Homo sapiens: one gene and its partner. The protein of the gene in region 2 interacts with the protein of the main gene of each other region in a pairwise test. Each region holds a gene or a part of one and is shown on either strand. Other genes may lie near its edges.

Region 1 (7,497 bases), on a different chromosome or scaffold from region 2:
TTTTGGCACGGGGTGGAGCAGTGTGTCTGAACCAGTCGTTGATACAAAGCTGTGTTTAGATCTTAGCTCCTGGTTACCATGGATTTCTGTGTGCAAATCCCCTATCTCCCTGGGTCTCATTTTCATCATCTGTAAAAAGAGGACACTGAGCTAGATGATGTGCAGGATCTCTCCCAGCTGTACACTTCTTGGCTTTATTACGCTGGACAGGCAGGTCTTTTTGTTTCCCAGGATGTTGGTTGGCTTCAGCTCTTAGTCTTAGGGGATCTGGCATCCCGTGCTGGGGTTTTCACAGCCTGCAAAGCAAGCCAGGTTCTGGGCAGAGCCAGGCTTCCTGGTGGATTTAGGAATGAAACCCATCTGGACAGGGAGGGGGAATGGGTGGGCTTATAGGAATGCTGGGCTATACATTTCCTATCTCAAGCTTCAAGAGTGACAGGACCACCAATGGATATTTCGGAATAGATGCCTAAAGGGCTAAATTGATTCTTTTAGGGGAGAAAAGGCACATTGTTTGATAAAGGCTAGAACATAAACCAAAATGTGGGCAGTTTGTAGTTGGAGGCTGTCCTTCGTATGTGCAGGTAAATACCACTTCAGGTATCTTCATGCATTTAATCAAAACTCTGCAGTTCGTAGACTCTGCACACATAGCACAATGCCTTGCATACAGCAGTTATCCAATAAAATCTGATGAATGAGTAAATGAGTAATGATATGCATAGTTGCCAAGGAGATGAGGTTCCCTGACATTTATTCACACTGAATTACCTGTGCACAAAGAATGGCAACTTTATAAACATTGCCTTTCATCGAATTAAAGATAATCATCTGAAATGAATTTGTAGTGAAATAATCACTTGTCTTTTTATTTAATGAAACCAAAACTTATGTATGTTTAACTAAAATATAAAGGTTTGAAAATGTGATGAAGAAAATTTTGTACTGCAAAATTATCCGGTAATGAAATCTTAGTTAGAATTTAGATTTAAACAAATGGAAAAAAGAGGCATAAGGGAATTATTTAGAATTCCATTATGTTGTTCATGAGGTGAAATGTTAGTTAGTTAAACACAGTCACCAAGCACTGCTTACTTAAATTCTAAGAATAGCCTGTTTCCATCAAAAGTGATTTGTTGTTTATATCTAGCAGGAACCATTGAATCAGCAACTAATTATTTCAAGGATCTTTAACATTTTTCCATTTAATTCCAAGCTTTTCATGGCAAATTTCTGGACAGGACTATTTTTTGGTAAATGTTTGACATTTTCTTTGCCCACTAAAACATTTATTTAGTTCAGATTGTAAAAATAATTGCATATGCCTTATGCCTCTTGATACATTTATTTTTTCCAAAGGCCATCAATATAACTCTGGAGAAAAGATCCCAGCCAAGTCTGTAAAGTTCTAAATGTCAGATAAATTGCACTTTTTATTTCCCTCCTAGAACTTTGTGAAAGAGACTTATATAGGAAAAATTGGGTGTGCCTGACTGCTCTTATATAGGGAGAGATACGGGATGAACATTGTCCTTTGAATGATATTTCCTGTCCTGTTTACCCTCCTAGCAGAAGGGCAACCATTTAGAAGACAGAAACAGTTCCTCTCTTATCTGGCCTCTTTAGTTGGACAGCTTCTCATAAGGGGTCTACTTTTGCCCCCAGCAGTCATGATCATGCATAGGCAAACTCTGCCAATTTGGATGTGAGAAAGACTACCAAGTGAAAGTAGGATATGTGAAGTCTCTTTGCACCAAGAAAAAAAAATAATTTCCTGCTTTTTAAGGCACAGTAACTTAATATTTCCTTCCTTTCTCCCTTTCTCCATCCATCTCTTCCTTTTTTCCCGCATCCACTATAAACAGGCCCTCTGTCAAGACCTTAGAGATACAGTGTTAATTAAGCATGGTCCTGCTCCTAAGAAGCAGACAGTTCAGGTGGGGTAATGGAGAAAAAGAAGCTCTTCTGGTTTAGCGTGTATTTCATTAACAACTCATGATGCACCTAATTTTGTCAGGTCCTTGAACCCCAGTGCCCTTTTCCACTTGGTTGCAATGTTTTTCCTTTGTCAGACATCCTAGGGCTTATAGATCCTCTGGATCCTCTTCAGATAGGAAACAGCTACCCCCGCACCGCCCCCCCCACCCCCGCCCATTGCACACACCAGTTAAAGCAACTACAAAAGGCATTTTGCCAGTCAATTCTTAGGGCTACAGTACTCCAGCCCCCCCAACAAAAGTAAACAAAACCTTTGTAAAAATGCTGTAGGAATCATCTAAAAGAGGGAATTTTTAAGGCCCATAACTTCTTCATTTTCCTAAAAAATATTTTTCATTATAAAATGAACATTCTTAATAGTTGCAGAAATGCTCCCATTGATTTTCAAATTTCACCCAATGAGTTTCTGCCAAACAATGGGTAATAGTTTCAATTGTGAAGTAATAAGTAAGACCAAAGTAATTCTAATATCTTGTGCTTCAAAATTGGCCACATTTGCCAAGCATAGAAGTAATTTGTAGCATGAAGCCAAATGCCTACTAATAATAGAAATGTAGTCATTTAAGGATCACTGTATCTTTTCCTAAGAGATTTGATTGCAGTGTAATTTCAGCACATGTGATTTAGGGAGTAATAATCATTCATTCCAGCTTTTTAACCAAGGCAAGTTAATGCACATTTTATTTAAGGCTTATTATTACTTTTAACATATTCAATTCAGCTGCTAAATTCCCCACAATAACTATGCTATTGCCTCATGAACACTCTTTCGAATCTTGTCATGATCCAAGTTTCTTTTAAGCCCTGAGTGCTAAAGTTAGTACTTCCTATTTTAGTTTTTAGCATTACTAACACTTAAGGTGGTATCCTTTATTTCTTAGAGAAAAAGAGAGGAAAAATATCTTAGTTACCTAATGGCCTTAATATGAGGACAAACTTCTCTATAAACAGAAGTCTATCTAAGCTGTTATATTTAGATTATTGTACATCAAGTATGAAGAATGGTCTTGGTGACAAGCTCTCTAATGAAATATTTCTTAACAGGGATGGAAATGGTTCAGCAGTATTGGAGATTAGTATATAATTAATCCAGAAAAGCAGCTTAAAAGGGGATCACTGCTCTCTCTCTCCCCCTCCCCTTTTTTTTTGGTGATTTAGCATATAAATGAACACATCTAGACAAGACATAAAAATGATTATAAAACCAGTAAACATGGTTTAGTGCTTTCTGTGTGCATACAATCTGCTAGATGCTATGGGAGGAGTACAGAGCTGGGTGAGAGCAGCTTCTGCCCTTAGGTACTCACAGTTTCACCATGTGATAAGACAGACATGGTGAAAACATGAGTGACAATAAAATTTAAAATATTCAGGCTTTCCCAAACTAACAAAAGAAATCAAATGAGAAGCCCGGATTAAGTGTCAGGTGTTTAGGTGAGAGGAGATGCCAGTAGACTGAGATTTGAACAGGGTAAAGACATCCTTCTTCCCTGACAACCTTCTTTGAATACCCACAGGACAAACAGAGGACATAGAAAGACTTCCTCCTGTCTAGTGCTGTAATACCTGTTTATAGGATGGTGAGCCCGGAGGTTCTAAACCTGGATTTTTCAAGGAGCAACAAGATCCAAAGAGTTCTTGAAGGCCACAAGGGCAGCCCAGGCTCCCTAACTCATGACTTAATGGTCATTGAGGCCCACCACAATTCCCTTCCTTTCTAGAAGTTGACTAAGTTCTAAGAAGTTTTTAACGTTTCTTCCACGTGGAAACTCGCTTACATTTAGTGGCTCTCAGATAAAACAAGATTCTGGAAGCTGAGAATTATAACTTAAATTAACGTTCTTGGAGAAAGGAAGAGGTTAAGAATTTATGAAGGAGCCAGAGAAGCATGGATGCTTGGGATTTGAATATCAACTGTGAAATTGCAGGAAACCAAGCATTTCATCAGGTAGTAATGATCCATTGGAGCTTAGGGTTTCAAAACTAGGTTTAATTCTTAACGAGTTTTCACACTGAAACTCTTATGTAAAAGACCTGGGTTAAGGTAAAACAGATAGTTTGTATGGTGGTTTCCAATAAGCAGTACATAAAACTGCATTTGGAGATTTGTCCACCATGCAGTAATTTCCATTTAAACCAAGGAACCTCCTAAAAAGGGGAGGGGGCAGTATGAATGCTCTTTCTAAGTCTACATCTGTCTGTAGATTTTTTTTTTTTAGCCGCATTTAGTGCTGTTTTTTTTCCAATCTGGTTTCTTGCTAAGTTGCACATTTCAATGAAGCATCCAAATTGGTCATTCTGATAACACCCGAAATAACCAGATGTTTCCTCATTAATCCAGTTCTTTTGCATGTAAATATGACACCAAGAACCAATACTTTCTCCAGTTAGCTCATGGTGCCTGGCGGGCTCTGCCAAATGAATTAGTCGTGGCTCAGTCATTTTCTGATGTCCTTTAAATGACTTCTCAGTTGCTACATATTGGTCACTTTCTCAGAGTCTCCCTTGGCAAAGCAAACATTTTATTGACACGGAATGTAGTTGACGCAGAAGTTTGACCAGGTGTTGTGCACATTGGTTTTGAAAAATGAGCCTGATGACATAGTTTGTGGAAAGATGAATTCACTCATGGGATTCTACTCCAAGAAATCTGATTCTTAGATATCATATGAAACAAAAACTTGAATCCATTATCCCTATTTACTTTTAGGCATATTCATATACATATACTCTTTTCCCTAAAGCTCTTGACTTAACCATGGTTCCACTGTCAGTAAAATATTTTGATTCTTACATATTTTTAAGTACCTCAATAAGATTAGGAGTTTAAAGCTAAACTTTATTTAAAGGCCAAACATATCTACCTGTCTGACTTTCTAATTTTGTATCTACATTGCCCCCAGAAATAGAAAATCTTTATTCCATTTTAATAGCAACACATAAATGCCCACAAAATTTTATAAGATCTGTTCATAGTTCCTATTACCTGAATCCATGGAAGAAACAAACATATTCTTCCTGGGAGTGTTTGTTGCATATTTGCAGGCATGGTATTTGTTGTGCAGACTACTTGAAACAAGAACTAAACAGTCTTACACTGAGTCAGATACAAAAGTTCTGCCCAGACTTGATTCACATTCTTGAGATTGCTGCTAATTTAAACCTTTTCCTCTGATTAGAGATGGCATGAGGAAATGCAATCTTGTAATAATTGGGCAGATCATGCCCTCTCACATGTTAGCTGCTGCTGCGTTCAGATGTGCTCATGGTGGTCACTAAATATACCAAAAGTTAATCTACTTTTCTCTGCCAAAAATATGCAATAGCTTTAGCTTACTCTTCTTGGTAAAAATTTCTTAAGGGGGAAAGGGAAGCTTTTCAGATGAAGGTTCAAGTTAAATAAATTATATTTATGAAATATTCAACAAGAAGAGTTTTCAGTTCTCCAACTCCTCTAAAGCCTCACAGTGTTTAAACTGGTACTTTGCAAAAGGTTCCATAAAGCCTTCCTTTTGGGCATGAATCTTCTTACATATACATTTAATTATGTACATATATGGTGTGTTCTATATTTGCGAAAGGGTGACTTCAGCAGGCAGGTATGTGTCTGAAGAATTAGTTTCTGGGTGAGGCACGTTGTGACTATTCTTTGGCTGGAAATTTTGCTCTCACCCAGAATTAATGATCTTGAATACAAAGATGGGTAGATCTGAAATTTCAAAAGCTCTCTAGAACTTTGCTGATGTTTGCCAAACTTGAGCAACTCAGAGAACCCCAAGTGTACACTTGTTCCAATCTACCCCCAGCAAAGCCTTTCAACTATATTTTCTGGGTGAGCGGGGTACACATTTTGCATATATAGTGTAGTTGTTTCTTTACAATATAGAGTTTCCCTAAGTTTTTCCTTCAGAGGTGTGGCAGGTTACTTAAAAAGGACCTTGGAATAGGGTTGCGAGCTTAAAAGTTTCATATAGTACCAGAGAAATGCTGCATCTGAGAATTTCCATATGCATGAAGCCTATTCCACATGCTGAAAAAGAGTTTCATTTGACAAGCCAAACGCAGTCCCTAAATGTTATTGGACTTTAGTGCATTCTTAGGTACTAGAGCACATACTCTGTGTATATCAATACCTACCATGTACTGCAGTTAAAGTTGAATACTTTCATACTTAGTAAAAATTGTTGAGCCCTCCTGCTTGTGCTGTGTTTAGTTCTACAGTTAGCACCTTGGGAGTTTTTCATGTGCATCTTTTAAAAACACCTATAGAAGTTAATTTTTTTTTTTTTTTTTTGCCGTTTGGCTTCACAGGGTGTTGTAAGACTTTTCTGGAGGGATATAGGAGTTAGGGGCAGGTATTGTTCCTGCTTTACCCACTTACTTTCAGCTCCTTCCTTTGGTGTCATTTCTGCCCCTCTTTATTGCTTCTCACTTCACAGAGTCATTTCTGGAATTCCTCTTCCTTTTTTTTTGGCATGCGTTGTCTCACGCATACCTGTGATTCCACCGTGCCCTCTCCAGCTTTGCTTGCCTTACTTCCTTTGTGCAGTCTCTTGGGCTTTATGGGGAAGAAAAGGAAGGATTCCAAGTGCTTAAACACAGAGTAAACACTGTAAAGTTACACAGGAGGTGTTTTTGTGTGTGAGTGTTTTTGTTTTTTGTTTTGCTTTGTTTTTTTTTTTATCCTGAAAGTCCTGCTGAGCTGATGACTTACATCTTTCCTGGTGGGACAGTTCTTGATAATTCTATATCAATATTTTTCACTGTGAATAAATAGAGACAATAGATATTTCTATCTAAGACAAGATAAACTTAACCTATCAAAAATATAGTGAATAAATGGTCTTGTTATTTTAAATAAATTACTCTTGTCATTGGCAGTCAAATTATGCTTATAACTAAGAAATATGGGAATCAGTTTTACTATTACCTTTGGACACTCGTGTTGATCTAAAAGCAGCACTGTTCATTAGCAAAAGTAATAGAATGGGATCAAAGTGTCATCCCTAATTAGATCATGTTAAACCTCTTAAAAATTACCTGTCTACCTCCACAAGCACGGTGGTTTATTTCTCATAAACCTTTGCACTACATATGTATTTTCACTTATACTGTTAACCGGATAAAAACAAAAGCAGATACAAACTTCCCTGAAAATCTGGTTTAACTGGAGAACTCCGTTTCATTTTAAAATCAGGCCAGAGTCTAAATTTTGCAGATATTTAGATATATGCACTAAGCACAGAAGCCAGCCCACTTGATTTTAGTAGGTAGCAGTCTCCAGCAGGTGACTCAGGGCTGAGCACAAAGCCAGATCTCCTTTGTGGCCATAAAATGGGTGGGGGACGGGAAACATAGTCCACAAAGGGGGGAGGGGTATTCCCAGCAGTCATGTGGTGGCCTGAATGTTGAAACCATTCCTCAGGATTTTCCTGGCAGTCTCAATTTTAATTAAACTCTTTTATCCTCTTTGTATTTCTTCAATCGCTTTTCCTAATT
Region 2 (7,623 bases):
GGGTGCTGTGGTTTGAAGGTGTCCCCCAGAGTTCATGTGTTGGAAACTTAATCGCCAATGCACCAGTGTTAGGAAGTGGGGCCTAACACAAGGTGATCAGCTGCCCTCATAAATGGATTAATGTTGTTATTGAGGGAGTGGGTTTGTTATAAAAGCCAGTTTGGGCGCCTCTTGCTGTCTTGCTGTTGCCCTTCTGCCTTCTGCCACGGGATGACACAGCATGAAGGCCCTTTCCAGATGCTGCTGCCATGTTCTTAGACTTCCCAGCCTCCAGAACCATGAGCCAAATAAGCTTCTGTTCATTATAAATTACACAGAGGAGGCCTGGTGCGGTGGCTTACACCTGTAATCCCAGCACTTTGGGAGGCCAAGGCGGGCAGATCACCTGAGGTCAGGAGTTCGAGACCAGCCTGGCCAACATGGTGAAACTCCATCTCTACAAAAAAAAATACCAAAAATCAGCTGGGTGTGGTGGTGGGTGCCTATAATCCCAGCTTCTTGGGAGGCTGAGGCAGGAGAACTGCTTGAACCTGGGAGGTGGAAGTTGCTAAGCCGAGATCACACCACTGCACTCCAGCCTGGGCGACAGAGCGAGACTTTGTCTCAAAAAATAAATAAATAAATAACTTAGAGTGTGGTATTCTGTTGTAGCAGCATAAAATGGACTAAGACGCGGGTAAATCCTGCACTTGCCCCATCAGATCCTGGGCTGGACAGTCTCACTTATTTATTTTTACTTTTTTTCTTTACCTTCTATTTTTAATACGGATGGGGTCTCACTATGTTGCTCAGGCTGGTCTTGAGCTCCTGGGCTCAAGCAATCCTCCCACCTTGGCCTCCGAAAGTGCTGGGACTACAAGGCATGAGCCACCACATACAGCCAAGGACAACCTCATTTCTAATGGCTTCTTCAGGGCTAACCAACCATCTGTGGTTCTTTTTTGTTTTTTTTTGAGACGGAGTTTCGCTTTTGTTGCCCAGGCTGGAGTGCAATGGTGTGATCTCACTGCAACTTCCGCCTCCCGGGTTCAAGTGATTCTCCTGCCTCAGCCTCCCGAGTAGCTGGGATTATAGGCATGCGCCACCATGCCTGGCTAATTTTGTATTTTTAGAGATGGGGTTTCTCCATGTTGGTCAGGCTGGTCTCGAACTCCCAACCTCAGGTGATCTGCCTGCCTCAGCCTCCCAAAGTGCTGGGATTACAGGCGTGAGCCACCGTGCCCGGCCTCATCTGTGGCTCTTAATACTCAACCTAATTTTACAGAAGTCTGGGATACAAAGAGACTAGCCTAAGCATTATAGTCAGTCTGTTGATATTTATTTACTAGCTGCTCTCAGCGTTTGTTGTGGGGCCTGCATGACAACCACTGAATGATACATTCAGGTGCATAAACCCAGCTGTTAAAAAAAAACCCAAATGTCTGCAGTTAAAGTAAAAACACAAAAATTAAAAGCCATCACTGCCATTCCTCTAAGTTATGGCTGCTTAATCCTATCTGTGGCATAGATAATATGGTCAGTGGATTCTATGATGTTCCCAGAAAATCAGCTCAACCTTCACTCAATTCTCTTCCACTCAACACAACTAAATGCAAAATAAATACAATAACAGCCAACCTTCAGTGAACACCCACTGCATGCCAGAACCTGCTTGGTATGTTACAAACACCCTCCTTATTAATTTCCCCAGTAACTCTATGGGGTAAATACTGTGATTATCCCCATTTTACAGAGGTGGGACTTGAGGCTAGAGTTCACTTATTCCCAGCCATACAGCTAGCAGTGGTGGAGCCTGGGTCACTTGCCTGGGTATGTGTGACCCCAAATACAGTGTTGCCAGCCATCATGGGATTAGAGGGACAGTGGCCATATTAGAGGGTCTTTTTTTTTTTTTTTTTTTTGAGACGGAGTTTCACTCTTGTCACCCAGGATGGAATGCAATGGCTCGATCTAGGGTTGCTGCAACCTCTGCCTTCTGTGTTCAAGCGATTCTCCTGCCTCAGCCTCCCAAGTAGCTGGGATTACAGGTGCCCGCCACCACGTCCGGCTAATTTTTGTATTTTTAGTAAAGATGGGGTTTCGCCATGTTGGCCAGGCTGGTCTTGAACTCCTGACCTCAGGTGATTTGCCCACCTCGGCCTCCCAAAGTGCTGGGATTACAGGCCACTGCGCCCAGCCTTCTAGAGGGTCATTTTTTGAATTTAATATAATTTCTTTTAAAAAAACAAACAAACAGTTGACTTATTCACAAATTTTGGTTCTAGCTATCTCACTCTCTGGTCTTAAGTCTTCTGGCACCTTGCTTCTCCTGGCCAGAGCTGGGCTCCACAGCTGATTCCAGGCACCTCTGCCGGCCTGACAGCTGGGCCCTGCCTGGGTGAGTCAGTTTCACCATGGGGAACACCAGCGTCTCATCCCAGAGACAGCAGGACATGGAAGAGGCTCACCTCTATTTATTGGGGTGTGATCTTAGCCAAGTCTGTACCATGTGCTGTTGAGAGGTTAAATGGGCGTGCACTGTGTAACGTGCCCAACAGAGGGCCTGGCACCAGGGGAGTGCTCAATCAACTGCATCTCTGGTGACAGTGGTTGCTGGCAAGGTTTCTGCTGTTTCCATGTTCCTGGCTCTGACGATGGAATTAGCTCTAAGGAGATTTAGGTGTGGGGGTCCCAGAGCTAGGGCTTTCAGTCCCCCAGGCTGAAGACTGCTGAAGACTGCAGTGGAGCAGGCCCTCACTGCCCTGCCTCTCTGCTCTCCTCAGGGAGCAACAGGTGACACTCTTCTCCCCAGGGAAAGACAAGTGGCGGGCTAGAGGAAAGGGGGAGGCACTTACCAAACACCCGCCGGCGGTTCTTGCGCAGAATGCAAGCCAGGTACTCCTTGCCCTCGGCACTCTCGTGCCAGTTTGGGACAACCACCGAACCGGGCACGGGAGGTCTGGCCATGGCTGGGCACCGCGACGGGGTAGGGAGGTGACAGAATGCTGAGAGCAGGGAGTGGGAAGGGGAGTGACAGTACCAAGCCGGGCCTGTGATCCCTCTTAACTGCCCTCTGACTCTCCCGGGGGGCCCCAGAAAGTGCAGTCCCTCAGCCGCCTCTCTCCTTCGCAATGCTCCCTGGGGATAGTCATCCCATTACTGCCCATGGAGGGTATTCACACAGCCCCTCTCCCCTTGTCACCTCCGGGGGTCAGACAGCCCCGCTTCTCCTCTACCTTCTAGATCCCGACTCCCAGGGCTACCTAGCCCTCCCCGTCAGCAGTCCCGGCGGCGAACCGACCTGGGTGCCGAAGGCCCCTTTAAACGCCCACCCGCACTCCCGCCGCCCCAGCCCGCCGGGCCCACTTCCGCCCCGCCTGCGTCCGCCTTCTGCGCGTGCTGGCAGCTCCGGCGCAGGTGCGCGCGGCGCATGTGCGGAGGTTGTTGCCATGGAGACGCCGGAGGTTGGGTTGGGCGGGTTCCGGGAGGCGTTCGTCCCTCCTACAACGTCCGCAGCCTGCGCCGCGCGGTGGCTCTGGACTAGGCCTTTTCCTCTGGGTTGTGGATCCTCTTCTCTATGACTCCGTCCGATCCCTAGTCTTTCTTCCAAAACATCATGAAACCCCCCCTCCAGGAGCCTTTCATGCTTCTCTGTGTCTCAGTTTCCTCTTCTATAACGTGGACGTAACATGTTATTCCCTCCATAGCAGTGCTCCATATGTTTAGTTATGATTGTTGCTATTATTAATATTATTGCTCTATTAATCCTGCTTGGCAGGACCTCTAGATGACTTAAACATCTCTGGCTTCACTGATGGGGACACACACCAGCTCAGAGAGGTCAAGGGACTTGGCTCAAGTTTTAAAAAATGAGTCAGAGGCCCGCTGGATTGTATTTTTCATTCATTCATTCATTCAACAAATACTGAGCACCTAGCTGGGAATACAGTGGCCAACAAGAAGTCCCTGCTCTCCTGGAGCTGACTTTTCAGCTCTGAAACTCTGAGCTCCTCTCCACCGTTCCAGCACTGGACACCAGGCCTGTTACCCAGAAGGTGGGTGCTCAGTAAATGCCCACTGGTTGGAAAGAGTGCAGGTGGGTCATTACTGAGAGTTTGTCTATTACATTTAATTTTTACCATTATCTTTCCGCAATGCCTTCAAGTAGGGCAAATCACTGTTTTGAAAGGAATAATTTAGGAGTTAAGCTTTACCTAAGGCCACCCAAGTGCCAGACAGTGGGGACTTTACAGGGGTCACCTGATTTAATTCTATAAACAAACCTGTGTAAATAGTATTACCCTCTTGTACTGACGAAGACTCTCAGAAACATAACGTGACTTGTCTGAGGTCACACCGCACAGCTAGTCAGTGTGAAACCGACTCAGAACCCACAGCTGGCTGGGTGTGGTGGCTCACGCCTGTAATCCCAGCACTTTGGGAAGCTGAGGCGGGCAGATTGCTTAAGCTCAGGAGTTTGAGACCAACCTGGGCAACATAGTAAGACCCTGCCTCTACAAAAAAAAAAATACAAAAATTAGCCGGGCACAGTAGTGCACGCCTGTAGTCCCAGCTACTTGGAGGCTGAGATGAGAGGATTGCTTGAGCCCGGGAAATGGAGGTTGCAGTGAGCCGAGATCATGCCACTGCACTTCAGCCTGAGTGACAGAGCTAGGCCCTGTCAAAAAAAAAAAAAAAAAAAAAAAAAGAACCCACACTTACCTGACTCTAAAGTACTTATCTGTTCTGCCAGTTTGGGTTTTGTGTTTTTAAAACTTTGCCCCTAGCCACTAGGAGGGCTGTTCCTAGGGAAGCAGAAAGCAGCCAGAGGACTACGAACTCACAGATTTTTAAGGCCCATTATGTCTAAGAGAGGGGATGAGGATGTGTAAGACAAGGTGCTTTCTCTCAACTTGCTCACGCTGTGGCTAGGCAGAAAAACCAGATGAATAACCATTCCTACAGGATTCTGCAGGTGGAATCCTTTGCCCATACTCCCAGGTCACATGGTTCCCATTCCTGCAGCTGTCACATCTGCCCAGTCAGGGAGATTCACAGCTGTCCAGAGCTCTCTCCATGGGCCAGGAGTCACTCAGTGGCAGGGCTCTGATCTGAATTATTTCTGGATTTCCAGACTTCACATCCACCCATCTTTGGCTCGTGGAGGGCTCAGTGAGCGTGTGAGAAAATGAAGCAACTTGGCAGAATGAACGTGCCTGTTAATCTGCAACCCAGAGAAGATGTAAAGTCCTCTTGGGGCCATGTGCGGTGGCTCACGCCTGTAATCCCAGCACTTTGGGAGGCTGAAGCTGGTGGACCACTTGAGGTCAGGAGTTTGAGACCAGCCTGGGTAACATGGCAAAACCTTATCCCTAAAAATATACAAAAAAATGGCTGGGCGCGGTGGCTCACGCCTGTAATCCCAGCACTTTGGGAGGCTGAGGCGGGCAAATCACCCGAGGTCAGGAGTTCAAGACCAGCCTGGCCAACATGGTGAACCCTGTCTCTACTAAAAATACAAAAATTATCTGGCTGTGATGGCAGGCGCCTGTAATCCCAGCTACTCTGGAGGTTGAGGCAGAAGAATCGCTTGAACCTGGGAGGTGGAGGTTGCAGTGAGCAGAATCATATCACTGCACTCCAGCCTGGGTGACAGAGCTGAATAAATAAAATTATGTATTCAGTGGAAGGCTGATCAAGGACTCAAAAGAATGCAATCTTTTGTCTCCTATCTACTTTTTTTTTTTTTGAGACAGAGTCTCACTCTGTCGCCCAGGCTGGAGTGCAGTGGCACAATCTCGGCTCACTGCAACCTCTGCCTCTGAGGTTCAAGTGATTCCCCTGCCTCAGCCTCCCAGGTAGCTGGGACTATAGGCATGCCCCACCATGTCCGGCTAATTTTTGTTGTTGTTGTATTTTAGTAGAGACGGGGTTTCACCATGTTGGCCAGGATGGTCTGGATCTCCTGACCTCATGATCCGCCCACCTCAGCCTTCCAAAGTGCTGGGATTATAGGCATGAGCCACTGCACCTGGCCTTGTCTCTTATGTATTTCTAACCTGGAAGCCCCTGCTTCAAGCTGTCCTGTCTTACCAGACCAAACCAATGTACATCTTACACATATTGATTGAGGTCTCATGTCTCCCTAAAACTTAAATGCAAACTGTACCCCTGACCACCTTGGGTATATGTCTCAGGATTTCCTGAGGCTGTCACGGGCACATCCTTAACCTTGGCAAAATAAACTTTCTAAATTGACTGTGACCTGTCTCAGATATTTGGGGTTCACACATCCAACCCCGACATTCTGTGTCAGGGGCTGGGTAGGTCTGTGAGCCTGCAGATTTGACAAAAGCACTAGGCAGTTCTGAAGTTGGGGTCTATATGAGTCAGCCCAGGCTGCTGTAACAAAAATACCACAGTCTGGGTACTCTAAACAACAGAAATTTATTTTCTCATAGTTCTAGAGGCTGGAAGTCCAAGATCAAGGTGCCAGCAGAGTTGGTTTCTGGGTGGGGCCTCTCTTCCTGGCTTACAGATGGCCTCTTCTCTGTGCTTATACATGTCTGGTGTCTCTTCCTCTGTTACAAATAGGACATTAGTCCTACTGGATTAGGGCTCCATGCTTATGGTCTCATTTAACCTTGATTACCTTTTTCTTTTATTTTTTGAGACAGGGCCTCACTCTGTCACCCAGGCTAGAGGGCAGTGGTGTGATCTCAGCTCACTGCAGCCACGACCTCCTCAGGCTCAAGCAATCCTCCTGCCTCAGCCCCGAGGGGAGCTAGGACTACAGGTGCATATCAGCACGCCTGGCTAATTTTTTTTTTTTTTGTATTTTTGTTTGTTTGTTTGAGACAAAGTCTCGCTCTTGTGCCCCAGGCTGGAGTGCAATGGCGCGATCTTTGCTCACTGCAACCTCCATCTCCCAGGTTCAAGTGATTCTCCTGCCTCAGCCTCCCAAGTAGCTGGGATTACAGGCGCCTGCCACCACACCCAGCTAATTTTTGTATTTTTAGTAGAGACGGGGTTCTACCATGTTGGCCAGGCTGGTCTTGAACTCCTGACCTCGGGTGATCCGCCCGCCTTGGCCTCCCAAAGTGCTGGGATTACAGGCATTAGCCACCATGCCCGGACTTTTTCTTTTGTATTTTTTTAGAGGTACGGTTTTGCCTTGTTGCCCAGGCTTGTCTCAAACTCCTGGCCTCAAGTGATCTGCCTGCCTTGGCCTCTGAAAGTGCTGGGATTACAGTCATCAGTCACCATGCTCACCCTTCATTACCTTTTTTTTTTTTTTTTTTTTTAGTCTAGATGAATTTATTGCCATTCACATATTTCATAGAAAAAAAGATGTAGCAAATGGGTCAGGGTTGTACCAAAAAAATCCAGGTTTATAAGGTTGCTCTATTTACATCTGAGAGCAGGGCTGTCCTGGCATCAGGCACAGCAGCTGCAGTTGTCCGACGTCCCTTTGCAGATGCAGCCCTGGGCACACTTGGCACAGCCCACAGGGCAGCAGGAGCAGCAGCTCTTCTTGCAGGAGGTGCATGTGCACTCTTTTCATTTGCAGGAGCCGGCACAGGCGCAGGAACCATCAGGCGAGCAGGAGCAGTTGGGGTCCATTTAGAGGCAGGGAGAAGCAGG

The links. Proteins that work in one complex are often made in the same cells at the same time.
Region 1: the proteins of CPLANE2 (region 2) and RND3 interact in binary tests that used the Homo sapiens proteins (3 or more experiments, as listed by UniProt).

What each region holds. Positions count from the first base shown.
Region 1 is NC_000002.12:150,477,375-150,484,871, reverse strand, and holds part of RND3 (rho-related GTP-binding protein RhoE precursor), read left to right. Parts: intron 1-7,497. UniProt on the Homo sapiens protein: Binds GTP but lacks intrinsic GTPase activity and is resistant to Rho-specific GTPase-activating proteins.
Region 2 is NC_000001.11:16,233,797-16,241,419, forward strand, and holds the start of CPLANE2 (ciliogenesis and planar polarity effector 2), read right to left. Parts: upstream 3,388-7,623; 5' UTR 2,947-3,387; coding exon 2,835-2,946; intron 1-2,834. UniProt on the Homo sapiens protein: Required for efficient primary cilia initiation, regulating a late step in cilia initiation. Plays a role in the final maturation of the mother centriole and ciliary vesicle that allows extension of the ciliary axoneme.